Homo sapiens: one gene and its partners. The protein of the gene in region 2 interacts with the protein of the main gene of each other region in a pairwise test. Each region holds a gene or a part of one and is shown on either strand. Other genes may lie near its edges. The genes, in order: SEPTIN3, LASP1, CRYBA1 and VGLL3.

Region 1 (7,024 bases), on a different chromosome or scaffold from region 2:
AGCTGAGCCCATTTGGTCTCAACCTGTGTTATAAGATAGAGCCACATGGTTTGGGGGGGTGGTCTTATCCCCATTTTACAGACTTGGAAAGTATGCCTTGTATTTACTTATGAGAGGTTGTGTAAAGATTCCTATAAAGTGTGTGCTCTCACCATGGCCTGCTCCGCCCTGGCCTGTCAACTGCAGCATCCTAAAAGAGCACGCCCAAAAGATAGACCCTGATGGAGAGAGGGTCCTACCAGATCCCCAAGCAGCATCTAGGGGCTACCACAGGCCCACTACAGGACCAGGACCTGGTAGATCTCACTTTCATTCCTCCAACAAGCACATATGAGCACCCACTGTGTGCACTGTACACAGCGCCTGCTGGCAAGTCAGCCTCCCCACCACATGCCAGTGACATGCCAGTCACATGCTAACAAGCCACCCACCAGCCCCAAGTACAGTAAATGTGTGCAGGTCACTGTGCCACAAGCTTTGCTGGAAGATCCTGTTCCCCCTCCAACCCCTGGCTCCCTCCTCCTCCTCCTCCTCCTCCTCCTCCTCCTCCTCCAGCATTCAGCCCCACTGCTACTCCCAGGAAAGCCTCTGCTTTGCCTTCTGATGTGGATGGCCCTCTTCTGTGCCCACTGCACATTTTCTGGTACTCATCACATTCACTCATTCATTCATTCCATCCCATCTAGGCCATTTCATATGCTGTCAAATGGGGGTCTACACCAGCCAAGCCCTAGGCGAAATTCCAAGGACACTTATGTACCCCAGACAAGGTTGTTGCCCTTGAGGGCCCCCTGTCTGGTAAGGGTGCCTGACAAATAAACAAAGACCTCTGGGGCACAGAACCAATGCTGCTCTGGAGCTGGATTCTGTAGTTCCATCCTCTGTCCCTACAACTCCCCTGGTCCCACCATGTCAACGTCAGATGGGCAGGTGACCCAGGCTTGAATCCTGGCTGGGTGACCCTTATGAGCCTCATTTTCTGCTCAGACAACTGGGGATAGAACCTACCTTGCTGGGTTTCTATGAAGGTTATACAGAATGAAGAATGTAAATTATCTGGCACAAATACGTACTAGTTCTCACCCTTCTTTAGGGCGGGGCCGTGTCTTATTGATCTCTGTGCCCCAGTCTACCCAGCATACCACAGGCACTCCTCAATAAGTGAATGAATGAATGATGAGTGAATGAGAACTTCAGAGTGAGGCAGGTATCAGACACATCACCTTTCTCTTCCCTCAGATGCTTCTCCCCATGCAGAGCAGCTGACCCCCCAGTGAGCAATGGCTGTTGTCTCCGCCACAGTCAAGGGAGTAGAATTGTTGAGACCTCCTCCTTCCTCTGCAACAAGGATTGGAGGGGGGCTCCCCAAGGGTGGGGAAGAGCTCGGGTCACAGCAGGGTGCAGCTCAAGTCTGCCATCCTGGCTAGATGGTCCTTGGGGCCCCCCTCAGCTCCTGGCTCTCCTAGGGCCCCTGGAGAAGGGGGATCTGCCTGCAGCACCCTCTGCCAGAAGCTACCTGCCCCATCAGTGCTCCAGGGAGAGGCACCATCCACCTGACTCGGTTGCAGCCAAGAAACAGCCCCTCCATTCCCATGCTAAGCAAAGACCCTGGCACTTCCTTTTACAGGCAAATGAATGGCTTTGGCTTTGTCTGGCCCAGGGACCCCACCCCTGTGTTAGGAAGGTAGCAGCTGGGGGAGGGTACTTTTCCAAAATAGCACCTGCTTAGTGCAGGCCCCCCCTCTTCCTTCCACCCTGAAGATGGATCTTCCTCAGCCCCCCGCAGCCTTCAGGACCCCACCGCCCCCCACAAAGGCAATTCCAGCCCACCCCAGTTCCAGCCCTAGGCTCTGGGAAAAGGAATCACGAAAGCTCTCTCGGTCCTTTCCCATTCGCAGGAGCAGAGGGCCCTGGGACACCCGTTCCCCCATCCCAGTCCTCTGGAGGCCAACGGGTTCCCTTGGAGACCACCAGCTGGTGCCTGTCTCAGCGTGTGCCTGTAGGGGTTGCGGGGGAGGGGACGTATGTATCAGTGCACAGGTCTCTCATCCGGCTGGCATGGCCCTGGCACCTGTGCGTGGTGTGTGTGTGTGTGCGTGTCTTGGTGTACTCCAGCATGGGGCTTTCTGTGCGCATCTGGGTCCCTGCTTGCGTGTCCGTGGGTCCCTGCGTCTCCCCGCGTCCTATGTCTGCCTCTCTCCAAGATTGTCTCTCTCGAGGTGGGTGCCACCGTGTGTGCGTGTGTCCGCGCATCTGTCACCGCGCGTGGGCTCCTCGGCGCGGAAACCCTCCCCCAGGAGCGCCTCCAGCCGCGCTGGCCGGGGCCGCAGCCTCCTCCTGGCGGGTGCCGGTGGCCTGGCCGGCCGCCCTACCTTTGGACATGAATCCTCCTTTGTCTCCGTTCCTCCAGGGAGATGCTCCGGGCGCGGGGCTGCAAGGCTGAGCGGGGCGCGGGCTTCCCCGGGCCGAGCGGCCCCTGCAAACGGGCCTCGCCCCTTCGCGCTCTCCTCCCACCCGCCCGGCCCGCGGCCCCGCCGCGCCGCCCCTGCGCCCCGCGCCGCCGCGCCCTCCCCGGGACCTCGCCTCGGCTCGCTCGGCGCCGCGCCGCCCCTGTCCGCGCGCACCGTTGCCGCCGCCGCCAGCCGCCGCCGCTGCCACCCGCACCACGTGACCGCGCGCCCGTCGGCCCCGCCGAGGGCCCCTCCCCTTCCCGCGGCGCCCGCGCCCGCAAGCGGGAACTGGTCCCGGGTCCACGCTGCGGGCGGTCCAGGAGCCGCCCCCGCGGGCTCCAGGTGCCAGGCCCGGAAAGGTGCCTGCATCCCAGTCCCGTCTCTCCCCGCTGGACCTGCTCCCCGCCCCTTACCCACTGGGCTGCGGCGGGGACGGGCGGAGGGGCGCAGGGGACCAGTGGCAGCTGCGGGCGGCCGTGAGCGCGCGTGAGTCACGCGGGGGCTGGGGTGTTGCGCGGGTGCCTGTAGAGCCGAGTCAGGGGCCCGGGTTCCAGGCCCTGCTCCAGAATGATGAACCAATAACCTTGAGCCAGACAGGAACTTCTCTGAGCCTCAGTTTGCCCATTAGAAAAAAATTTCACGCATTCAGTGGATACTAATGGACAGCATATTGCCTCACAGGGGTGAGGACAACCATCCCTCCCCTCGAAGGTTCTGGGTCTAGTGGAGGAGACAGGAAGATGGAATGTCCTAATGCAGGGGCCGGGGTGCACACAGGGAACTGAGGGTGCAGGCAGGTGGGCACCCTGGGGAGAGGGGGCTTGGAAGACTTCTTGGAGGAGATGAGGGCCAGATGGAAAGGCAAATGGGAGTGGAAGGGAAGAATGGAAAGGGAGAGGTATTCTGCAAAGAGAGGACAGCAGAGGTGAGGGTCTCCAGAGGTGAGAGCTGCGTGGTGCTGGTGGACAGCCCAGAGTCCTTGGTGTCGCTGAAGCAGAGAAAATTCCAGACAGGTGTGTAGAGCTAAATAAGAGGCTGGAGAAGTCCGCACGCAGCCTTGGAAGCTGGATTTTAATGGAAGGTAATGGTGAGTCACTGACGAATATTAAGCCGAAAGTGCTGCCATTCAATGTGGGAGTCGTTGCAGCAGTTGTGTGTGGACAGGGAACAAGCTGGTGGGTGGGAGGTGGCCTCACAGGGGCAGAAGGATGGAGAGGAGGGGACAGCCAGCCAGATAGTTGAGTACTGAGGAGGTAAACCAACAAGGTGGGAAGTAGACTGGATGAGATGGCAAGAGAGAGATGAGGAAGAAGAGGATACCCGGGTTTCTAGGCACCTAATAAAAGGTAGGCAATGCCTACAGCTGAGAGAGTGAGATCAGGGAGGCAGGAGTCAGTTCAAGAAGAAAAGGGCTACCTCTGGACATGCCCGGGAGACATCCGGGTAGATAAGCCTAGCAGGCTGCTGGCTGCCCACATCTGCACTTCAGGAGACAGGGCTGGGCTGCAGATGGAGGGAGAGCTGAGATCTCGTAGGGAGAAGTGAAGACCAGAATTTAGGTGAGGTGCCCAGACTGAGTGTGTGGGGTGGAGGGAAAGGGGTCTGACAATCTAACGACTCAATTAAGGCATTAGACTGGATGCCTTCTAGGCACCTTTCCAGACCCAAAAACTCTGAGCCCTTGAAATGTTGGGAATGAGGCTGCCCAAAGTAGAGATTTTAACAATCTGGATTCCAATCAGCTTACTGCCACCAGCCAGCTTTGGTGTGACTTTAGGCATGTCACAGGCTTTCTAAGACCAAATGAATGTCCAGCCCTTGTGTTGCCCTATTTTAGAGTTCTGTGTAGGACTTCCATATATACAAGGCTCCAACTTACCTTTCAGGATTAAAGGGCTGGGGGTGGGGGACCAAGAAAGAGACATTCAGGTAAGACAACTTTTAAGCAACAGATACCTTCCTAAAAGGCTGAGCGTAAATGGATTTGGAAAGTCTCGAGTGAGGTCATTATCTCACATCCAGAGGAGGCTGCAGAGACTACCTATTAGACAAATCACAACTTCCTAAAGCGCTAGTCAGTATTTTCACGTAGGAGGTAGGAGGCTTGCTTTTTTTTTTTTTTTTTTTTTTTTTTTTCTTTTTGAGACAGAGTCTCGCTCTGTCGCTCAGGCTGGAGTGCAGTGACGCAATCTCAGCTCACTGCAACCTCCGCCTCCCGGGTTCAAGCAATTCTCTGTCTCAGCCTACACACCTGGCTAATTTTTTGTATTTTTTAGTAGAGACGGGGTTTCATCATGTTGGCCAGGCTAGTTTTTTTTCTTTTTTTTTTTTTTTGAGACGGAGTCTCACTCTGTCACCCAGGCTGGATTGCAGTGGCGCAATCTCGGCTCACTGCAAGCTCTGCCTCCTGGGTTCACGCCATTCTCCTGCCTCAGCCTCCCAAGTAGCTGGGACTACAGGCACCCACCACCACACCCGGCTAATGTTTGTATTTTTAGTAGAGACGGGGTTTCACCTTGTTAGCCAGGATGGTCTTGATCTCCTGACCTCGTGATCCACCTGTCTCGGCCTCCCAAAGTTCTGGGATTATAGGTGTGAGCCACCACGCCTGGCCTGGCCAGGCTAGTCTTGAACAACTCACCTCGTGATCCACCCGCCTTAGCCTCCCAGAGTGCTGGGATTACAGGTGTGAGCCACTGCTTTTAAAGGTGGACACACCTATTGATCACCTGATTATTCCAGGTCTTCAGGAAACAAACAATCCCGGGAGATGCTGAAAGGAGGACTCACCATAATTGCTCCTCCACAAGTTACCCCTGTTAACCTTTCTTTTTCTTTTCTTTTTTTTTTTTTTTGAGACAGGGTCTTGCTCTGTCGCACAATCATGGTTCACTGCAGCCTCGACCTCCTGGGCTCAAGCAATTCTCCCACCTCAGCCTCCCCAGTAGCTGGGACCACAGATGCATGCCACCATGCCCTGCTAATTTTTTATTTTATTTTATCTTATTTTATTTTTTGAGACAGAGTCTTACTCTGTCACCAGGCTGGAGTGCAGTGGCACGATCTTGGCTCACTGCAGCCTCTGCCTCCCAGGTTCAAGTGCTTCTCGTGCCTCAGCCTCCCAAGTAGCTGGGACTACAGGCATGTGCCACCACACCTGGCTAACTTTTGTATTTTTAGTAGAGACGGGGTATCACCATGTTGGCCAGGCTAGTCTTGAACTCCTGACCGCAAGTGATCCACCCGCCTTGGCCTCCCAAAATGTTGGGATTACAGGTGTGCGCCACTGTGCCCAACCCTTATTTTTTATTTTTTTATTTTTTTGAGACGGAGTCTCGCTCTGTCGCCCAGGCTGGAGTGCAGTGGCATGATCTCGGCTCATTGCAAGCTCCACCTCCCGGGTTCACGCCATTCTCCTGCCTCAGCCTCCCAAGTAGCTGGAACTACAGGCACCCGCCACCACGTCCGGCTAATTTTTTTTTTTTTTTTTTTTGTACTTTTAGTAGAGACGGGGTTTCACCGTGTTAGCCAGGATGGTCTCGATCTCCTGACCTTGTGATCTGCCCGCCTTGGGCAGATCCCAAAGTGCTGGGATTACAGGCGTGAGCCACCGTGCCCAGCCCCTTATTTTTTATTTTTTGTAGAGACAGTCTCACCATTTTTCTCAGGCTGGTCTTGAACTCCTGCACTCAAGCAATCCTCCCATCTCAGCCTCCCAGAGTGCTGGGATTACAGGTATGAGCCACCACACCTGGCCAAAACCTTCTTTCTGATAGTTTCCCTCAGCCTGACCTCAGACTGGCAGGTTAGAACCCAGCTCAGGGTACAGTCCCTATGTCTGGCCCTACAACCCCCATTTCCTTTTCTCCCAACCCATTCAACCCTGACCTTAGAGTCCTTCCTCCGTTTCTCAACCCATGCAAGCATGATCCATCTCCAAGCTCACACACCTCCCCCTCCCGGCAGCCTAGTCCATCCCCAACCAAGTTTCTGCATTTACCTTTGTATTCTGTGGCCAGGTCCAGTGAGGCAGGCTCTGTGGCTCTGTCCATGGCAGCATTAGTGTTGTCCAGGGCTAGGTCTGTGGATCTGCTTGGCATTAGCAGGCATGTAGCAACGTCTGATATGGTTAGGTTATTAACACTGCCCAGTGTGGTCTTCCCAGTGGCTGGGTCTGGGGTTACTGGCACAACTGAACCCACAGCTGTGCCCATCCTGCTTGTGTCCAAAGCAAGAGAATTCTTAGCCGTGCCCAGCTTGGCTCTGTTCACTCTGGCCAAAGCCATGGCTGTTTCCAACCTACTGGTGCCCACTGTAGCTGTGATTGTGTCCGGCTTGACTGGGTCTGATGTTGCTGAATCCATGGCTATACCCTCTGTGGTCATATCTGGTTTGGCTGTGCTTCTTGTAGCCATGGCTTTGCCCAGCTTGTCTGGTTCTGAGGCTATCAAATCCATGACCATCCCTGGCTTGGTTGTCCCAACTGTAGTCAGATTCATGGCTGTGCCCGGCTTGATTGTGCCTGCTGTAGCCAAGTTCACGGTTTTGCCTGACTTGACTGTCCCTACCGAAGA
Region 2 (6,838 bases):
TTTTTTTCTTTTTTGCAACGGAGTTTCGCTCTTGTTGAGAGCGAAACTTGTTGCCCAGGCTGGAGTGCAATGGCGTGTTCGTATTCTTTTTGGAGAGACCAAGGAAAAACTTTATCCAGTTTTGCAGGAGGTTGTTCTCTGACTTGCTAGCGGGGAGAGATGAGTGGGATTGTGGATAAAGAATTGAGCCTAGGCCGAGTGTGGTGGCTCACGCCTGTAATCCCAGCACTTTGGAAGGCCAAGGTGGGCAGATCACCTGAGATCGGGAGTTCAAGGCCAGCCTGTCCAACATGGAGAAACCCCGTCTCTACTAAAAATACAAAATTAGCCAGACGTGGTGGTGCATGCCTGTAATCCCAGCTACTCGGGAGGCTGAGGCAGGAGAATTGCTTGAACCTGGGGGGCACAGGTTGCGGTGAGCCGAGATCGCACTATTGCAATCCCGACTGATCAAGGAGAGCGAAATTCCGTCTCTGGGCAACATAGGGAGACGGCCTCCTTCACCCACCACCTGCCCCCATCTCCACAAAATGGAAAACAAACAAACAAACAAACAAAAATTGAACCAAGCAGGGGTGCGGTGGCTCATGCCTGTAATCCCAGCACTTCGGGAGGCCAAGGCGGGCAGATCATGAAGTCAGAAGTTCGAGACCAGCCTAGCCAACATGGTGGAACACTCATCTCTACTAAAAATACAAAAATTAGCTGGGCGCGGTGGCGGGCGCCTGTAATCCCAGCTACTCGGGAGGCTGAGGCAGGAGAATCGCTTGAATCCGGGAGGCCGAGATTGCGCCACTGCACTCACTCCAGCCTGGGTTACAGAGGAAGACTCCGTCTGGAGAAAAAAAAAAAAAAAGAACTGAACCTAGACAAAGCAGATTGGCACCTAAATTCACACGCTTTTCAAACTGCCACCACGTCTTGGCCTAGCCTTTTTTTTTTTTTTAGATGGAGTCTCGCTGTGTCGCCCAGGCTGGAGTACAGTGGCATGATCTCGGCTCACTGCAACCCCCGCCTCCTGGGTTCTGGGTTGCAGCAATTCTCCTGTCTTAGCCTCCTGAGTAGCTGGGACTACAGGCTCCCGCCACCGCTACCGGCTAATTTTTTGTATTTTTAGTAGAGACGGAGGTGGGGGGGGGGGGGGTGGGTTTCACCATCTTGGTCAGTCTGGTCTCGAACTCCTGACCTCGTGATCCGCCCGACGCGGCCTCCCAAAGTGCTGGGGATTACAGGCGTGAGCCACTGTGCCCGGCCTATCTTGGCCTAGTCTTTTAATTTCTCCTTCCTCATTGGTAATTTCAGTATAATCTAGCAAAGAGACACTAATTTTGAACGAATGGTGAAAGTATGAAAATTTTGGGATCAATCGATGTAAAAACAATTTACCAGAGAGCCACCGCCAGAGGGGGTATAGCTCAGTGGTAGAGCATTTGACTGCAGATCAAGAGGTCCCCGGTTCAAATCCGGGTGCCCCCTCGGGTTTCTTTAAGTTTTTTTCACAGCCATCCAGGAATAACCTGAGTCAGCGAGTTCTGAATGCAAAACTCACGGGAGGTGTCGTTTGTATCTTCCACCTACCTAATTTTCACCTTGAAAGGATTCCCGTACCCTAGAGGGAGAGAACAGCAACCAGAGGCTGCCTTTAGGTGGATCTGAGCCCTCATACCCCAAGTGGCGATAAGCGCACCAGTACTCTCAGTTGGAGAACAAAGGCGCGTATCGATTTCCATCTCCGATGCCCATTGGTTTAACGTTAATTATAATTTGTTTTGGGGTAAAAAATATGTCTTGGACGGGGCAGTAGTTCGTACTTGACTATGAAAACTAGGAGAAGTAATCCAAATTCAGAGGTTTTCATATACTCGCGAACTCGAACAGGACAGGGCACACAGATAGAAGGTAGACAGCGAGCAATTTTCCCCTCTTCCTTCTTGACTCAGCTCATAGGCAGGGCTTTGGCTTGATAAGCTATACATGGAAAGTTCAAGGCCTAAAGGAGAGGTAAAACTGGTTCCTCCTGGGTTTTGCACGGAACCGCAGCTCTGCTGATCTGTGATCTCTCTGTTCAGCCTAGAGATACAGCTCACAGTAATAGGAGCCAGGAGAAAAAAATGCGCGTTTCCCCGGGGTCCGAGGAATGACACAACCACATTCCGGGTTTAAAATATCGCAGCTGCCCTTTGACCCAGGCAGCACGCCTCTTCCTTTCTCCTTTATTTTTCCTTTTTTTGGGCAAAACCTAGTCGAGGGGGACGCCCTTGTCTCCCGTCACACTTACCATTTTCCTCCGGCCCAACAGTGACCCTGTCAGGCACGCAGCCAGCAGATACTTGTCCCCATCTTTAGGTTATGAAACTCCATGGCCTTTTATTCTTACTTCAGTGGTTCTTAAAATGTGGTCCCCACACCAGCAGCACCAGAGGCACCTGGAAACTTGGTAGAAATGCAAATTCTCGGGGCCCCCTTACAGAATCAGAAACTAGCAGTGTTTTAACAAGCCCTGCAGGTAATTCTGATGCACGTTCAAATTTGAGAAACACTGTGTTCGTTTATCTCAGTTTGCACTGGGTTATAACTTTACTTTTGTACATTAATAGTCAAGGATGAACACAGCACGTCCATGTCACCATTAATACAGAAAGTTGAAGTTGGAGAAGGGCTGTGTCTATGGGTTTCCCTCGCCTGACCCACCCTCCACCCCCAAAAGGAACGCCAAGTTGAGGCGTTCCCCTGTCTCCCTACCCCCATTGGAAACATCCTGTCCCTCAAACCCGGCACCTCGAACTGTCTGACCCATCTGAGGCTGGCGCCCGTGGCCGCAGAAATCCCTACACCTCTGGCGCGAGTAATGCGGTCGCGCAGCTTTTATACCCACCCCCTCCTCCCGCTGAGCACAAAGTAAAACCGAAAGATTTCTGCTAAGGTTGAAAAATGAGGAAGATACTTTTTCTTTTCTTTTTTTTTTTTTTTTTAGTCAGGACCCAATGTTAAAATGTGAGTCAAGAATGAAAAACAGATGGTTAACAAGGGGAAGGAAAAACCAAGCCATTGAGGGGGCACCCGGATTTGAACCAGGGACCTCTTGATCTGCAGTCAAATGCTCTACCACTGAGCTATACCCCCGCGCCTCTACAGCGCCTGGAGGCGGCTCCTTGGGTGCTAAGCATTGTTGCAGCTGCTACACTGTGAGTAGTGGTGTAACAGAAGGAGAAAGGAATGCTGGAGAAAAAGGGGTCAAGCTGAACGCAGACGGTGCCCGCATCCGGGGAACCCCGGGAAGGTGCACTGCAGGGGCTCGAGAGGGAAGCACTAGCCCGGGCCCGGCAGCGCGCAGGGTCCAAGAGGGAGGGACGGGTTCCGCCCCACAAATGTGGGAAAGGGTGTGGGCCGGAAGAGAGCTAAGAGGGGCAGGGTAGGGGGTCCCCGTTCGGTCCGCAGATTCATGCCGGGTAGAAAGTCCCCGAATGCGGTGAATCAGTTCCAGCGTTCAGGAGGATCCAACCCCACCCTCGACGGGCTTGAGGGGTTAGCCCGCCTCCCGCAGCCCGGGCGCCCCAGATGTGCAGCCTGCTCGCCTCTGCGCCGCCTCCGGCTGGGGAAGGGCCCTGGGCACCGGGCGCAGTCAGCCTGAGAGCGCTGAGGCGCCAGCACCGCGGGCCCCGCCGTCCCCCCAGGAACCCGCCCCCGCGCAGCCCCACGTCGCCCGGAGAGCGCGCCTCGCTGCGCGTGCCCTTGCCCGCGCCCGAGGCGCGTGCCCGCCCCAGTGCAGCCCCTCCTCCCCGCTGTGTTTATTAGGGGAAGGAGGGCGGAGGCGGAGGCCAGTTCCCCAGCTCCAGCCGCCGTCGCTGCTGCCTGTGTAGTTGCAGCCGCGGCCGCCTCCCGCCAGCTCGCCTCGGGGAACAGGACGCGCGTGAGCTCAGGCGTCCCCGCCCCAGCTTTTCTCGGAACCATGAACCCCAACTGCGCCCGGTGCGGCAAGATCGTGTATCCCACGGAGAAGGTGAACTGTCTGGATAAGGTGAGCCCGGGACCGGGAGACGCGTCTTTGCAATCCCCCGCAGTGCTCCGAATCCAGGGAGGAGAGAAGGGCCGGGTCTTTGCCGCCTTATCCCCGCGATCCCAGGAGAATGGAGGGAGGGCGAGCGGGCGGTGTCATGGGGTGTGGGGACACATCCCAGTCTGAAAACCAGGAGATCTGGGGCGAGGCGGGAAGTCCACGCGTAGCGGGCAGCCGCTGCTGGAGAGGGGTGGGCTCTGTGTCCCGGGGTTGGGAGGACGGGAGAGGAGCAGGGAAGTCAGGCGCCGGGGTGTGTTGGGGGAAGGTTAGGGGTGCAGTCCCGCCCCCTACGGCCTGGAGAGTGAGAAGAGACGGCCGCTCCCTCTCCGCTCTGCGCCGAGCGCCAAGTAGGCGGAAGCGCGGGGCGCTGGTGGAGGGGGCGGGGGGGCGGGGCAGAGGCTGGGGGGCCCTGCAAAACCGTCCGCTCCGGCGGGGGTGGCCTGGCTTCCTGGCCTGGCGGGGCGGGGGCTATCAGCCTGCGAGTGTGTGGCATCTGATGCGGGGGGTTTTGGGTAAGGACCCGGGCTCTGCCGCAAGAGCCCCGTTTTTGAACGACCTGCACCCCCTTGGATTCAGTCGTTAAAGGACTCGCAGACCTCCTCCACAGCTTCCCAACCCCCACCTCCAATTAAAAGCCAACTCCCGGTGCTGGGCCGTCCAGCCTGAGCCGGGTGGGGTTGGGTGGCAGAGTAGGGTGGGTGGAGGGTGCTTAGCTGAGATCTCCTGAAATTGTGCTCAGAGCCAGGAGACCGTGTGGAAGAACAAAGAGCTAACTTTTCAAAGCAGGTTTCTCCAATGGAGGGTGGGGTTGGCTGAGTTCTGGGGAAGCCGAGGAAAGGGGGAGGTATTGGGGGGAGGGGAGGGTGGCCTTGTGGAGATTCAGTGTCCCCTGGGGGCCCTGTCTCCCCAATGCTGGACTTGTTCATCTGGTTGCCATTAGACTTTTGGAGGGGGGTTGGAGAGTAGAACTGGGTGTTTCCCGTACAGTTTAGGGTAGGATCCTGTTCTCTTGTAAGCTCCGTAAGATCCTAAGGTAAAACCTGCCCCTCTGCATCCCCTCCCCAGTCTGGAGGGGAGGCCTCTGTGATTTTGTGCCCTTCCTCACCGCGTCTTTCATCCACCACCCAAAGCTGGCTCCAAGTCCAAGTATTCTGTCCTTTCCATCTGAACTGGGAGGGCTGGGAGGACTGGATGGAAGAGAGGTGCAAGGGTGGGAACACTAGATGAAAGAGGGGTATAGAGCCCTGGGGCCAAGTTCATTACTGACCTGGAGCCAGGTTTTGTTCAGGAGAGGATAGTTTATTGGACACCTTATCTCTCCCCTCCCCCTTGGTGTGTGAGCTTCCTCAGTGACCTTTGGCCTCTGAGTCAGCGTGAGGAGGTGGGGTTGGAGGTTCTGAAAGATATTTGAACTTGCTCTTGGGGAGTGTGGGCATATGGGGCCGCTGCTGTGTCACTGTTCCTCCTGGTCCTGGGCTTGACTGGGCAGGAGGAGAGGAGGGGGTATATTGTGGGCACGAGGAAAGTTGTTGATCTCCCCATGACCATGCCAGCCGCTGTTGGGCAGGACTTGAGCTTAGAGCTATCAGATAATGAAGTCTCCCCTTGAGAATGTACCTGTCCTTGCACACTGGGGTTTCGCCCGCCCCTCGTGGCAGAGATTTTGGCCTCTGCATCTTGAGTTCCCTGTGGTCCCCTTCTTCTCCACAGTCATGAATTGGGAAGAGGCAGTGGGCACTTGACCCGTATAAGGAAAAAGCAAAACATGAAGGCAGGATTGCCACTCCAGGAGTTGGGAAACTGGGTCCTTGTTCCAGGTCTGCTCCCACCAGTTTTATGAATGTCTCTAGGCCTCAGTATTCACCATCTGTCAGATGGGTATGATGATGTCATTTCCTTAAAGGTGGGGCAGTGCACTAAAGTCCCTGAGTGCTAAAGAGGGTGCTGTATAGACTATGCCCTCCCTACCTCTCTGGGATGCTCTGTTCAGCTCCACACCACTCCCCTTGGAAAGACCTTCAGTGCCGTGTACCCGAGGGGAGGGGAGCAGGGATGGGCAGGGTGCCCTCCCCAGTTCTCTTACCCTAGCTGGAAGAGGACGTTCAAGTGGGGGTTGCCCAGGGAAGTGGGAGTTGGTGATTCCTTCCTCTTTTTAGAACTCTCCCTATAGGAAGTGGCCCTGGAGAGACCTCGCCCCCTGTACTGAGCAGGAGACCTGAAATATCCAGGTATCAGACCTATTCCTCTCCACCTGCTCCAGGCAGTAAGGATAGGACCAGGAATGGGGAGCCAGTGCCTGGAGGATGCTGGGCTGTGACCAGGGAGGAGGGGAAACCTTCAGTCCCATAGGCAGCTTCAGTCCCATAGTTGCTAACCAACTTCCCAAGGCCTCCCATTTACAGCAAAAGAGTCAAATTAGACTCACCCGTTTCTCTACAATCCCCCATGGTACTCAGCCCACTACGTGGCCCAAAGCACAGGGTGTGTCCTTGGTTTCAGCCTTTTCTCCTCCCTGAGCCTTATCTCCCAAAGGCATAGGTGGGTAAAAACCTTGTCACCTCTGAAGGCCACCCTGCCCCCAACCTGCAGTACCCAGCATGCTTTGCAAGCTGGATAAATATGTATTGCTGATGACAGTGTTTGAGGAAGGAGGTCGAGATTTGCTTCTCCAGAGGACTTCTGGGATTAGAGCTGGGGGAGAAACAGGGTGACCTCATTTGCTCATTCAACAAATATTTATTGAGCACCTACTTTGTGCACCTGCTTTGTATCTAGGGAGCT
Region 3 (8,023 bases), 9.6 Mb from region 2:
TGGCCCAGAGGCCAGGATTCTGGGAGTCCCAGGAGCTCCTTATAGATTCTTAGCTTCTCCAGCCATACCCCCTATAGAAACCTAGAGTGTAAAGGAGAGTTATGGTCAACCCTTTTTGTACATTGAACTAAAACCTGGCTCGTGGACCTGGCCAGAGGACCACTCGCAAAGCTGTGAGCTGGCCTCAGAGTTGACCCAATGAGGAGAGTGGGGAGTGTTGGAGAGAGGCCAGTGAGAGGCCTGAGGATCAGCCACTTCGGCCAATGGTTAAAGCCAACCTCAGGATGGGAGGCTGAGTCCTGTAATTTATTTGGGATCTAGTAGTAAATATCTTTATGGGCCCTCATTTTCTCCATGGACATAACTGTTGCTGGGCTGCTGTATTTTAAGATGACTTTAGTGGGGAGGAGAGAGGAGTTAGGAAACTAGGTATCATCTCCCACCCATCAATGGCATCCACAGTCATCCTTCCTTTGTCCAGTGGGACATCCTGAGAGATCCTTCCTTCGACAGCACTGGAGCTTGTGTGGACCTTTCCCCTACAAACTGGGGTTTTTCTGGTCAGTCACTGCCTTATGGACGAGCACAGGCCTGGGGCCTGCTCTGTGCAGCATGTCACCCCTGCCCTGTTGGATGTGATGGGGGTGGGCTTACCTTCCATGGCCCCAGGGACCCCGGCGTAGGGTTGGTCTGAGCCATCTTGGTGGTTGGAAGGGTTTCTGGAAGACAGAGCACACACGAATGATGTGGCCTCTTGGGAGGAGGGGGAGGTGAGGGAATGCCTTGAAAGGTAAAGGAGACTTGAAGTCTGCAAGACAGACTTTGGTTGAAATTCTGGCTCTGCTGCTCACTAGCTGTGCCTCGGGGTTTGTTGTTGTTGTTGTTGCTATTTTGAGACAGGGTCTTTCTCTGTCATCCAGGCTGGAGTGCAGTGGCACAATCTCACTTCACTGCAACCTCTGCCTCCTGGGCTCAAGTGATCCTTCCGCCTCAGCCTCCCATGTAGCTGGGACTACAGGCATGCACCACTATGTCCAGCTAGTTTTTGTATTTTTAGTAGAGATGGGGGTTTCACCATGTTGGCCAGGCTGGTCCCAAACTCCTGACCTCAAGTGATCCACCGCGCCCAGCCTGAGCCTCAGTTTTTCCATTGGTAAAGCTTCGACATGCAGTTATTGTAAGGATCAGAAATAATAGGCCGGGCACGGTGGTTCACGCCTGTAATCCCAGCACTTTGGGAGGCCAAAGCGGGCGGATCACCTGAGGTCGGGAGTTTGAGACCAGCCTGGCCAACGTGGTGAAACCCCGTCTCTACTAAAAATACAAAAATTAGCCGGGTATGATGGCACACGCCTGTAGTCCCAGCTACTCGGGAGGCTGAGGCAGGAGAATCGCTTGAACCCGGGAGGCAGAGGTTGCAGTGAGCTGAGATCGTGCCACTGCACTCCAGCTTGGGCAACAGAGTGAGACTCCATCTCAAAAAAAAAAAAAAGAAAAAAAACAAGGATCAGAAACAATAATGCAGGTAAAGCACTGAGACCCTGTCCTCTCACTTGCTTTCAGGTGACAGCATTACCTCTGTCTGCAATATAAACTCTTTGGCAACCACCTAGGCCAGACCCCTCATGTGACTGGCCAAACAGCCAGCCATGCCAGGATCCCAAGCCCCAGACTCCCTCGTAACCCTTCACGGTCTCATCCTTATCTGGCCTCTTTCTGCTTTTCTTTTTCTTTTTTTTTTTTTGAGATAGAGTTTCACTCTTGTTGCCCAGGCTGGAGTGCAATGGCGCAATCTCGGCTCACCGCAACCTCCGCCTCCCAGGTTCAAGCGATTCTCCTGTCTCAGCCTCCCTAGTAGCTGGGATTACAGGCATGTGCCACCACGCCCGGCTAATTTTGTATTTTTAGTAGAGACGGGGTTTCTCCCTGTTGGTCAGGCTGGTCTTGAACTCCCGACCTCAGGTGATCTGCCCGCCTTGGCCTCCCAAAGTGCTGCGATTACAGGCATGAGCCACGGCGCCTGGCCATTCCTTTCTGCTTTTCTATCTCCTAGATCCTACCCAGCCTTGACCTTGCCTTCTCAGAGGCTTTCCTGCCTTCTCCAGCCCACAGCCACTTGCTTGCTTTCTTGATTTATAGCACTCATCACAGTACCAATCTGTGTTCTGGTTGGATGTCCTGGTGAGCACCTCAATGGCAAGGCCTCGGTCTTCTAGGGGATTGGTATAGCATCGTGCTGAGCACATGTGGAGATGAGGGATCAGGGGGACATTGAAAAAGACTTATTGAAGGAAAGTGAAGAAGAAAAGAGTTATAATACTTACACTCAAAAATGGCTATCTACATGTCCGGCCCTGTTTTAAATGCTTTACATGCATTCATGCATTTAATCTTCACATACAGACTATGAATTAAGAATTATCATTATCCCCATTTTACAGATGAGGATACTGAGGCTCAAAGAGGTTAGGTAGACAGTGAAGATGGTAGGACGAGTTTTAAAAAAGGAAGGACAGAGCAAGAAAGAGGAAGGAAAAGTGGGGGAGGAAGGGAAGAAGGAAGACAGGCAGGTGTGTATTAGGTTTCTTAGGACAGATATTCATGGCCCTCCTCCTGGCTGGTATTGGGCCCAGGAATGATGCATGTCAACTCTGTAATATATTTTTCCATTCTGAATCTCTGAATAAGCAACATTTCCCAGGTCCTGCTCCCATACCTTCTCCCTGCTCGTTTCTTGGGGGCCCATGCCCATCCCCCAGCCTTAGTTGCTAGGGCAGTGGTTATTGCTATATAAGTGACTCCTCTTGGGGTGACAAGAGAAGGCTGTCTTCCGCCAGAGTTCCCCACTCTTCTCCAGCCACCCTAGAAGGCTCTACACACTAGGCAGGAGAACTGGGCCCTCTCCTGGGCATGTCTCTGCAGGGCAAGGAGAGGAAGGGCAAGGGCACCCTGAGGGCCTTACTCACCCAGCTCCTGCTGCTCAGCCTGGGTCTCCATCTGGTACCACTTGCTCTGTGGCCCTCCTCTTTATAGCCCTGCGGCCTCTGGCCTCTGGCCCTGTCAGCACTCTGCTCTCCCTCTGCCTTTGTTCCTCATGATCCCCAGAGCTTTGGTGGCTCAGCTTGCTGGGGCCTTTGTTTAAACCAGGGATACAGAAATCCAGAGAGGCCCCTCTGTTGTGGGCATGGCTGGCTGCTGCAGGCCTTGGCTTTCTTAATCTCTCAGAGCAGCTAGGGGGTGAGGACAGAAGTCTCTGCCATGAGTACTTGTCTCTTGTCCTTCTCCAGGTTCCTCACACCACCTTGGGATCTTCCTAAGACCTTAAGACCCTGGGAGACCCCATGTCATATCAAACACATCAAAATGCACCTCACTTCCATACAGATGTGCATTTCTTGTTGTTTAAAAATGTGAAAGAATTATTGTAATTCTGAACTCAATATGAGAAAAAATGGTTCATTGTATTCTTGGGAATCTTTATTATGCTGTATTTATATATAACTATGTAAGGGTTGACTTCAATTATAGTTGACTAGCAGACATGTGTCTCTCTGTAGCTATTTTATTAAATATTCCTTTTAATTTTGCAATTTTCTTTAAAAATTTTGGAGCTATAACTTTTGGGTTTTTTAAAAAAGAATTAAACCATTTATTGAATAATTCCTATATATTAGACATGTGCTAAATGCTTTACTTAAAAAGTTTGAATTAAATACTTTTCCACAACAAAAGAAAGAAATACTTTTTCACAGCCACCACAACAGTGCTATTTTCACCTCCATTTTCCAGATTAAGAAACTAAGAGAACAATCAGGTGACTTGCCTAAGGTCACAGTATTTATAATGGCAGAGCCAAGACTCGAATCCAGTTCTAACCAACACCAAAGTCACTGCCCTGCACTGGCCCTCCCTCAGGAGTAATGCATAAATGGCCCAAAAAATTCCAGGAGAGGAAAGAGACCCCCCTGGCTAGAACTGCAGTTCTGAATATAAACACTGAGCATATAATGGATGTAACTTATCTGTTTCAAAAGGGGAAGGAGCCTAGAAATGAAGCAATTTTTCCTCCTCAAATGATCTTGGCTGCCTGTCCCTTTGTCTTCCATGTTAATTCCTTTCACCATTCTGCTCCCAAACAGGCCAGGTCCCACATCAGTTCCAGGAGGAAAGGGCTCTTTCAGCCTGCGGGTCATCGTTGGGCAGCAGTAGGAAGGGGAAGAAGGCAACCTTCTGAATACCTCCTTTGGACTCACCATCTAGATGTAAAGGGTTCACCTGCTCCATCTCAGATTCCCGGGGGCCTTCCTGTGAAGTTGTCTAGGCAAGCGGTGATAGGGACCTAGATGTCCTTGCTTCTCCCCTCTAGCTCACCCAGGCCAGGGGCGAGAATTCCTGCCACCCACACCTTCAAAACCAATTTTTTTTTTCTTTTTGAGACAGAGTGTCGCTCTGTTGCTTAGGCTGGAGTGCAGTGGTGCGATCTTGCCTCACTGCAACCTCTGCCCCCCAGGTTCAGGTGATTCTCCTGCCTCAGTCTCCTGAGTAGCTGGGATTACAGACACCTGCCACCATGCCCGGCTAATTTTTTTGTATTTTTAGTAGAGATAGGGTTTCACCATGTTGGCCAGGCTGGTCTTGAACTCCTGACCTCAAGTGATCTGCCTGCCTCGGCCTCCCAAAGTGCTGAGATTACAGGCGTGAGCCACTGTGCCCGGCCAATTTTGACGTTTTACTGAATTGTTTTAGGTCTTTGGAAATCTCACAGGCCCAAGTTACTATGCGTATAGTACCTTAAAGTGTAAAATGACTTCTCCCAGAAACTTCAGGACACTTGATGAAGGTAAGGTAGGGGAATCGTGGGCCTCCGCAGGGGCCCTGAAGGGGAAGATGTGTTCTGCAAGCATCACAGATATTGTGAGAAGCAAGAGGCTGCAATGGATGTGGAAGGCTTTGAGCCAGGCAGATGTGGGTTCAAATCCCAGTTTCCTGGCTGGGAGATTTGAAGCAAGTCACTCAGACTCTCTCAACCTCAAAAATAGAATATCTGCCTGATACATTGTAGGCTTATGACTCCTTACCCTACTCTCTTTCCAATGAAAGATACTATTGAAAATTTCGCTGGGCACGGTGGCTCACGCCTGTAATCCCAGCACTTTAGGAGGCTGAGGCGGGCGGATCACAAGGTCAGGAGATCGAAACCATCCTGGCTAACACGGTGAAACCCCATCTCTACTAAAAATACAAAAAATTAGCCGGGCGTGGTGGCGGGCGGCGCCTGTAGTCCCAGCTACTTGGGAGGCTGAGGCAGGAGAATGGCGTGAACCCGGGAGGCGGAGCTTGCAGTGAGCCGAGATTGTACCACTGCACTCCAGCCTGGGGGACAGAGCGAGACTCCATCTCAGAAAAAAAAAAAAAAAGAAAAAAGAAAATTTCATAGCAGCTTGGAGAGAAAAAGAAAGTTCTCTCAATTCCTCTGCAATCTCTCCAGTCCCCGACTCAAGTTTCATCAGTGGCCCCTTTTCTTCAGAACCAAAAATCAGGGGGTGAGGTCTGGTATGTATTCGAGTATTTGCAGATTTGGGTAGAACGTTCCAGACCAGGGGTTTCCAATGTTTTGGCTTCCCTGGGGCACATTAGAAGAATAATTATCTTGGCCCACACATAAAATATACTAACACTAATGATAACTGATGAGCTAAAAAAAAATTACAAAACAAATCTCATAATGTTTTAAGAAAGTTTATTAATTTGTGTTGGGATGCATTCAAAACTGTCCTGGGCCACATACCACCTGCAGGCTGCCGGTTGGACAAACTTGCTGTTAGACATATAAATCTGATGCTAAGCATGGCACATCGCCCCAAGGATGTTTCTGATGCCTTGATTAACTCGTGATGTCTGGACGGATGTCTGGCAGGGGACAGAGTTGCTTTTGGTATCATAGCATGCTCTGGCCACCTGGTGGCTGTGCAAGGGCTTAAAGCACTAGCTGTCTATGGTTGGTGATTCTTCTTTCCTTTCCCTTCTCTTCCTCCTTCCTTTCTTCAGAATTAGGGTCTTTGGGAAACACTCATTTAGTCATTTTTTCAATCATCCACTCTTAGGCTGGCTTAGGCCCTCACAGTGTGTCCTCATGTCATCCTGTGCTTTTCCAATTACACAAGATCACATTGATCATGCTGCAGAAATTGCTTTAGGAACTAGAAGTACTGGTTTCCAAATGTTGGGGGAAACTGAGGCACTTGGGCCTCAGATACAGGACAAGACTTTTCATAGTATATTTTTCTGTAATCTTTAAATTTTGAACATTGGGAACATATTTTCTATTAAGACTAAGTGATTTTAAAAAATAAAACATTGTTTACCTATCTAATTCTTCCACTAGCCTCCATGCTCTATAAGGGCAGGAGCCTCATCTGTCTAGTTCACTGAGGTTTTTTTTTTTTTTGGTTGTTTCTTTCTCTTTTTTTTTTTTATTAAGACAGGGTCTCATTCTGTTGCCCAGGCTGGAGTGCAGTGGCACGATCATGGCTCACTGCAACCTCCACCTTCCGGGCTCAAGCGATCCTCCCAACTCAGCCTCTCAGGTAGCTGAGATGGTAAGTGTGCGCCATCATGCCCAGCTAATTTTTGTATTTGTTTGTAGAGACAGAGTTTTGCCATGTTGCCCAGGCAGGTCTCGAACTCCTGGACTCAAGGGATTCACTGGCCTCAGCTTCTCAAAGTGCTGGGATTACAAGTGTGAGCCACTGCAGCCTGCCTGGGTCATTGTTACGTCTTCGGCTCTAAGCATACCTTCTAGCTCAATAAGTATATTCCGAATGAATGAATGAATGAATGAATGAATGACTGGGTTTTGTGATTCTGGTGGCATAGTCCTTATTGCTAGGAGCACCCAGCTGAGTTTGGCCTTCTCACCCCAGCCACAACTGGCCTGCTTGGGCTTCACACACCCTCAGCATCGTAATATGGGGGCTTTACATCCTACTGAATTGCTAGTACATGGAGATCAACTTAGCTAATTTTTAATTTTTGCAGAGAAGCGAGGCTTTTATGTTTGATTGAAAAGCCCAAACACACATGCACAGAACTATAGTGGTGGTCGGGTGGGAATCAGGGTTATTGTGAGAACAATTTACAAATATCCATCATACATTCCTGGAGTCATAAGTCCTCATCTGGCCTCAATCCACTTTTCTCAATCACCTTAAGTCCTGAAAGATTGAGGATTCTCAGCTCTCCAGTACTGACCACCAAGCCTTCCAAATGTCAACTCAATATAGTTTTTAACAGAGTTCTGGCGGATTCCCCCTCTGACATTGTCTGGCACTGCTGCTTCCCTTGCGGCAGCCCCCAGCCCCATCTCATTCCAGGAAAGTTAAAGCAGAGCCACTCAAGGAGTGGTAATGAAGGGAGCAACCAGCTTGGAATCCCTTCTCCCAGGCTGAGTATGGGTCTCTCCTGTTCATCCTTATTAATAATAACTACAGCTTACTGAGCATTGACTGCAAAACCAGACAGTGTCTTTGTAATCCTTACCACAATGCCGTGAAGTAGATAATAATACCCATTTTACAGATGAGCTAACTGAGGTTCTGAGAGGCCAGGGAAGTTCTGGGCCAGGGAACCTAGCAGGGACTTCAGTATATGTCTATCTGACTGCAAAGCCCATCTTCTTTCTTCCTGGCACAAAATAGGGTGATAATATCTACCTTAACCACTGCTATCAGATGAAGGGAAATAAAGGGATTTAGAGCAATGCTAGGTACTCAGAACTCATCACCACATGGTAATTGCATTACTGACTGTGCCAAGTCAGATACCATCTTTTGCTAAATTCTCATAGAGACAAGTGGGAGCAAGTAGCACAGATTTTAGAAAAAAAATTCAGATAAAAAATGTTTCCTTTGAATTTGGAAAATTCACTCCATTTTTCTTGTTTTCCGATATTTTTCTTTATTAAATTTTAGCAGCGTATTCTGTCAGTCTAGTTTTCTAGAGGGCATGGATCTTTTGGGGACAC
Region 4 (7,024 bases), on a different chromosome or scaffold from region 2:
ACGCCCTTTGCCTGCTAAGAGCATTGTTGCTGTTGCCACATAAGTACCACATAAAACAGAGAAGAGCCTCCTGAGACCTGCTGTCCATGAAGGCAGCTGCCAAATTGGGAACTCTAATAAGATCTGGCCTCAGGCATCAAATGACTCCCAAGTTGTCTTTATTTTGTTAGTATGTGGCAAAGAAAGAAGGGAAGCCTGTGCCTGCTGTGCCATCACACACGCATCTGCAGAGGGATTACCAAGTCCCCTGATACTTTGTTTAGAAAAGCAGCTTGAACCCAGTCTCAATAGGAAGCTGAAATGTGTTAGATGGGGCAATGATCAACAATGGAAAGCTCAGTGGAGAAAAGTTAACCAAAATAAGAACGTTCCACTCATGTCACGGGAGAGGTAAAATAAAGCTGAGCATTTATGACTCTGGGGAATTATTTGTTGTGAACCAGCACATGATTAAGGGTTCTCCACACTACAGAAAAGCTAAGGAAGGAAAGAATTTCTTTAAGCTTTTGGAAAGAGAGTTCCAATGTGCCACAAAATGTTCTAGCAAAAGAACCTGGGACCCACTACTTTGGACTCCAGGGATACAATGATCAATTTGTCGTTTTGGGCTCTGATGCCTATGATTTCATGAGCTCAGAACTATGAATACTATTAATATGACCAGTCTGGTCCAAAAATCAAGCTCAGACATTTGACACAGAACCTTCAGAACTATTGAATTCCAGACAGGAGATGAATGCTCTGTGAAGAAATCATTTCCTTACTATTAGTTTCTAAATCTGTTGAATATAAATTTTATAGTAGTCTTTTAAGTCTTGTATTATTTAAATCAGAGACAGGGAGAGAGGAGAGGAACAAAGGAGGAGGAATAAGAGAAAAGAAGGAAAGGCAAAGGAGGATAAAGTCAGGGAACGGAGGGCAGAGGAGGGGAGAGGAGGAAGAAAATGAAGAAAAAAATCATTCTTTTAAAATATGTTCCCTAATTCTTGTTCAAAAGGCTACACTATAGACTATATTTCAGAAACCAGTTTTTATAAGTCATACATAAGGCCTAACAAAAAAAGAAAGGAAAGAAAAATTACTGAAGTGCACCATTTCTGAATTCTGTTAGGCCTGACACATGGTATAATGCTCAGAGACATGGGAGATTTAAATAATGGGCTCATTTCTTTTTAAACAGAAGGTACCAGAGATTCCATTTCAAAGGAACAGACTACTAACCTAAGATATGAGAGAAAAGCTCTGAGACCTTTCTCAGGCTGGATTTCATGAGCTAGTCATACCAGTTTCTGCAGGAATGCAGAAATTATTGCAAAATGGCTAGGTTCCATAAACATGTTGGTAAAGTTTAACTTTACAGATAAGAAAAAATAATTTCAAAACAAATTTCCACCCTTTCTTAAATTAACTTTATCTTGTTATAGGAAGAAAGAAATCCAGCAGCTTACCTGTATCGAATCCCACGCTGGGCACTATGTCTACTGTTCCATGAAAGGCTCCAGCCCATGCTGAGGTAGCAGAGGTGACTGTAGTTGGTTCTGTCTTTGTGATGTCACACTGGGGAGCAGGAATCCTGGCCGCATGCACTGAAGGCATCAGCAGAGGCCCATAGGATGGATCCAGGGCAGAGCCAGCAGGAGGGTGGTGATGGTGATGATGGTGGCGGTGGCGGTGGTGCATGTGGGCATGAGGGTGGTGGTGCCGCATGTACACGTCATGCATATGGCTGTAGGATGGGCTCACCTGAGATGTCAAAGGATAAGGCCAGGACTCAGACACAGCAGGGGGAGGGGCTGGGCCAGTCTGATGCAGGTTGTGTCCCGGCCAAGGACTGGGATCAGCTGCAGAAAAGGTGCCAGGGGGTCCAGTGACCTGGAAGTCAGGATGAACTCCCCCCAAACAAGGTGCAGGTGGGGGCTGGTAAGAGCTGGTCCAAAAGGAAGTTGGGAAACTATTCCGCTGGCTTGAGAGAGCTGAGCTGTCTGAGAAGACAGAAAATAAAAAACATTATTAACATAAGACTCAGTTTTGGGATAGACTTGCCTCTAATTGTCCACTCTAATTGTCCAATAATATTTTACAAGCAGTCAAATTAGCATGCACTCTTATTCTCCCCAAACAGGGGTGAATTGATACCAGGTTGGCCTCTGGGCTCGCAAGCCAATGGGTCCATGTGCAAGATCCAAAGTGTTAAATGAGCCTCCCTCCATTTGCTTTGCTTGGCTTATGCCGTCACAGTCTGTGCTAAGGTTTGCAATTTGGGGATTGAAAAATTTCATTTCCTTCTGAGTACCTTGCAGCCATTAGGCCTAAGAGGAGGTCATATCTACCCACTTCACTGGTAAAGAAATCTTATGCCATAAATGAGGTTTGTATAAGTTGGACATGATCATTTTTACCAACTTCTAAATGCAAATACAATTTTCATTTAAATGAAACATTTTAATGCCGAAGGTAACAATGGAAGTAAGATTACAATTACTTATACTCACTAACACTCATTTTCCATTAAGAAGAGTGTATTCCAACCTCATTTTATTTATTTATTTATTTATTTATTTATTTATTTATTTATTTATTTTCTGTGGAGATCTGGGAGTCTCTAGACCGAGAATAAAAATGGTCAATATTTAATGACAGTATCAAATGCCCAACATTTTTCCAGGGGCTTTTCATGGATAATCTCATAGGAGTTTCATTCCAGGCCTATGGGGTAGTTATTGTTATTATTCCCATGATGAGAAAATCCCAGTAGAGAAGAAGCCTAAGGCTTAAGATGGCAAGAATGGGACTAGGCTTTGAAGCCAGGTGGCCTAAATGGCCAATGGCTGGGCCTCTTCATAAAGTGCCACAAGAGGGCGCAATTGTAACTGTGAACCTCAACATCTCGAATTTGGTGAAGATCCTATGGAAATGATGAGTGGAGGAAATTCAAGTAGAAGTCATGGGTTTGAGGAAGTATTTTGGGGAGAGGGAAATATCAAAGAATAGCACTTAGAGACGAATAAGAAAGAAAACGATCCCCTAACTCTTCATCAGTTCAATTTCCTACTCAATCGTAATAACACATTTATACACGACCTACTATGTATCAAACATAGGCGTCAGGGATGACCAAATGGACATCATTTTTAGTCACAATCTGCAGAAGGATAGATAAGTAAAAACAGACATGTGCAAGGTGACACGGTAGGTATTCTCCCAACAGGAAGCACAGAGAGCCCCGACCCAGCTTAGAGAGTGATAAGTGGAAGCTGACAGACTGAGTGGGGGCTAGCCCTGGGAAGTAAGCTTTAGGCAAATGGATCAGCACATAAGAAAAGGCCATATATTACACACACGCACACACACACACACACACACACACACACACACACACATATGACAGCAGCAGCATTTGAAAGACAAAAAGAGTTCCATAGGCAGAAGGTGGCAACAGAAAAATTGAGACTATTGAAATGAGGACCAAGATGGGTGTAGACTTGCTGGCCATGGTACTGAATGTAAATTCTATTCTGAGGTGGCAGGGTCTCAATGGGCTTTGAAGGGTTTTAATCTAGTAAGTGACACAGTCAAATCCGTTTGTGGAAAGATCAGTGCCTCCACCTGTAGCCTGTTGCCTACAGTGTTGTATAACTAAACAAGCACTGGGCTGGGAGACCAAGGAGCCCAGCTCTGATCCTAGGTCTTACCCTATCTCATTTTATCACCCAATATGGACCCATTGATCTTTCCATGGTTTACTTTCTTTCACTAAGAAAATGAAGTATTTGAACTCATTAATTCAAATTATCTACGGCTTAATACTGCTAACAGTCTGTGAAGTGCCCTATGGATTATTTTTATTTACAGAAGAAGACATTTTCTAAAGATGTTAGTCATGTGAGTTTAAGAGAGTATTTTTATACTGAGTTCCACATAAAAGAACCTTGCTAGATCTTTCCATTGAATGAAGGGTATGAATGGAGGATATCTTAAGAAGTATTTTAAAATAAGAATATTCAAAACTCTGACATTATCTATGTTCTCTCTATAAATATCAGGCCATAGTTTTCTTGCCTCAGGGAAAGCTTAAAAAACTTCAGTCAACCACCACATATATCATTTGGTTAACATAATTCGGCATTACTGTGGTGTGTGAACATTTCCTCTCCCCTAAAGGCTGTGGCAGCAGCACTGCAAGCTCTTCTATTCTCTCCCCTTCAGCTGGGCACCAGAGCTATGATCATGACCATTCATCCCATTCATCCTGTGGTCACACAGCTATTCACAGTCAATTCCCTCTCTCACAACATCTCCATCGATCTCAAAACACTTGGGGAAATCTAGGAAATGGTGTTCTTCAAAAGGCAAAGAATGGAACTGCACACTTTAAGTCTTCAAACAACCTCAGGAAACTTTTAATTGAATGACTTTGTTAAAATCACAATCTATCCAAAAATACCACCTATAATCAGCCTTACTGACATTGAGGTAACTATGTTTTCTTGAATTAACAATCGTCTCTTTGCAACATATGAAAAATACTATTAATGACAAGAAGGAAAGTCGTGTAAGTTGTAAGAAGAAAATTCAATTTGCCTTAGGTGATGGTCATTTGTAAAATATTTCTGTCATACCCACAATGAAAGCCATCAATGTTTAAAGCTTAAAACCCATACAGAGAGTTTAGAGAGGCTCCTTATTCTACATAGTTCATCCTTGCTACCACACATCTGCCACTTTGCTCTCACAACTCCCATCTTTGGGACCAAAGCCTTCATTCTGCTCCTAACTTCCATCTCCCGAGGGGCTAGAATCCTATTATGAAAACCGTTGAGCCCCAACCACAAGTACGTGCCAGAGATATAGAATTCCCCTTATTAAAATCCACCATTAAGATGTCAAAAGTACGGAGAGTATATACCATTTCTCTGTATGCTTTTAGTCTCATTTATATGTACATGGAGCCAATCTTATTTTATAGATGCTTATGCAGTTTGAATATGCATGCGCAAATGGGAATAATGAATCAATTATTTATCAAAAATATTATTGGTCTATTTATGAAGTACTGTACCATGATTAGTGAAGACATTATTACTGAAAGTAGAAATCTATTTTTGAAAATGCACTCCATAAAGATTGAACAAAGTTTTAAAATGCTCCAGGGAAAAATAAAATTAAAAGGAACTTAATATTTTCCCAGTCAATATGTCTCTTGAGATGAATATAAAGTTTGCAAAGATCTATGCAGCCCTTTAAAAAAAACCTGTTACATTTACAATTGAAACAATATTGAGTTGAAAATATGTTTATGAAGAAGTTTATACTTCAAAATCACTATTCGGTGTCTTGCTTGTTTAAGAAAAAAAAGTCTTGATGCAAAGGAAGAGATGATATGCTTTGTTTCATGCCTGAGAACCAGTGTGCTTATTTCATATGTATGTAAATTTTTTTCATTACATGATTCTTTGCTTATGAGTACTTAATCACAGCCACATTTGTTGGATGAAGAAGACATATGAAAAACTGCATGGGCTATTTCTATGCAATATTACATTTCAGGTGAGTGAAGAAAATACAATACTTTATGCTATTAACACTATATGGTGAGTTTGGATTCAATATTACCTGGTATACAGGTGATGTTAACCAATATTTGGATGATGTTGACACTGACAGTCTAACACATACAAAATGCCCAACTGTAATTTTGGTTCAATTTTCATTTGGGGTTAAAAATATTACTCACACATACATACACACGAGTTTATTTCTAGACAAAAAAGAAAATGATAATATTGATACATTGTCTAATAAAATCCACTAAAAGCAAACCCAGTAATCTCACTATCTGATTTAGACTGCAACATGGTATACCAGGTATTTCTTTCAATTTCACAATAGTGGGATACTTTTTACACTGATTGTAAATGTCTCTTAAAAAAAACACACACACACACACATTACCTCCAAAAAAATTTTTTAAAATCTCCGAGTAAAAAATTTAAGAAAGATAAGATTCAAAATTTAAAGAATGATACAGCTTATTAATTTTGAAAATAACAAAAACTAAATTAAAAGGAAAATGGGACAATGAAGTGTTATAGAAACTCTAAGTCATCTTAAAAATTTCCAGAAAACACATTAGAATCAATATTGATTAAAATATGATTATTAAATGCTAAAAGGTAACATTTTTACATTTTTTATTAATATCAGTTAAAAAACAAAATTCTACTCAATTCTTAAGCTAAAGTGTTCTTGCTGTAATTTCATTGCCATTCTCTTGTTGTTCTTCCCATAAAAATAAATGGCTGGGTCAGAAGTGAAATGACATGTGTTCCAGTGTTTTCTGTCATTCAGTAATTATGCATTACCATTATGTCCAAAGATTGCCTTCTAGTTACTTTCTTCTAGAGTTGCTCAAAATGGGCCTTGTGACTCTACAATGAGAGTTTCAAGGGATGATGTCAGAGGCCGATACTCCTTGGAGGCAGCAGGGTGAGATTAGTCACGCCTCACTTTTTTCCCCATGTCTTGGTCCTATGGACATTCTGTTCATTTCCAGTATCAGCCAGCTCATCAGACAGGCCCTCCTTTTCCTTTCTCCATTTGACTATTTAGGTTTCGTATTTATTTTGAGAGCTTTTTCCCATGAGAATGAATTGCCCAAGCAGACCCTATGTACATCAATGAGCCAACAGATGATTTTCTTTGCAACTGCAATATCAGTAAGATTAGCATTCTGTATGGTTTTAAGTCAGTGATTTACTCTGCTATGGCTTGACATAGCTCCTGCCCTTTTCTACAGATACACACAGACTCATTTCTGTAAAGATCAGTGCATAGGCATATTTGAAACCAATGTTTAGCGCTGTGCTAAATTAATCATATAGATTATTTTTAAAATCTTTATAATAACTCTAGGAGAAGGGTATCAAGAAACATATATTTGTATGGAGATAAGGGACCAATCATATTCATTAGGTTTGTTATTTTTTTTTTTTTTTAGATAGAGTCTCACTCTGTCACACAGGCT

What was found.
Region 1: the proteins of LASP1 (region 2) and SEPTIN3 interact in binary tests that used the Homo sapiens proteins (3 or more experiments, as listed by UniProt).
Region 3: the proteins of LASP1 (region 2) and CRYBA1 interact in binary tests that used the Homo sapiens proteins (3 or more experiments, as listed by UniProt).
Region 4: the proteins of LASP1 (region 2) and VGLL3 interact in binary tests that used the Homo sapiens proteins (3 or more experiments, as listed by UniProt).

What each region holds. Positions count from the first base shown.
Region 1 is NC_000022.11:41,972,423-41,979,446, reverse strand, and holds part of SEPTIN3 (neuronal-specific septin-3), read right to left. Parts: coding exon 6,451-7,024; intron 2,939-6,450; exon of another isoform or gene 2,864-2,938; intron 2,670-2,863; exon of another isoform or gene 2,383-2,669; coding exon of another isoform or gene 2,373-2,382; intron 1-2,372. UniProt on the Homo sapiens protein: Filament-forming cytoskeletal GTPase. May play a role in cytokinesis.
Region 2 is NC_000017.11:38,866,241-38,873,078, forward strand, and holds the start of LASP1 (LIM and SH3 domain protein 1), read left to right. Parts: upstream 1-3,817; 5' UTR 3,818-3,949; coding exon 3,950-4,018; intron 4,019-6,838. UniProt on the Homo sapiens protein: Plays an important role in the regulation of dynamic actin-based, cytoskeletal activities.
Region 3 is NC_000017.11:29,241,838-29,249,860, reverse strand, and holds the start of CRYBA1 (beta-crystallin A3), read right to left. Parts: upstream 3,003-8,023; 5' UTR 2,998-3,002; coding exon 2,967-2,997; intron 720-2,966; coding exon 655-719; intron 1-654. UniProt on the Homo sapiens protein: Crystallins are the dominant structural components of the vertebrate eye lens.
Region 4 is NC_000003.12:86,967,142-86,974,165, forward strand, and holds part of VGLL3 (transcription cofactor vestigial-like protein 3), read right to left. Parts: intron 1,983-7,024; coding exon 1,449-1,982; intron 1-1,448. UniProt on the Homo sapiens protein: May act as a specific coactivator for the mammalian TEFs.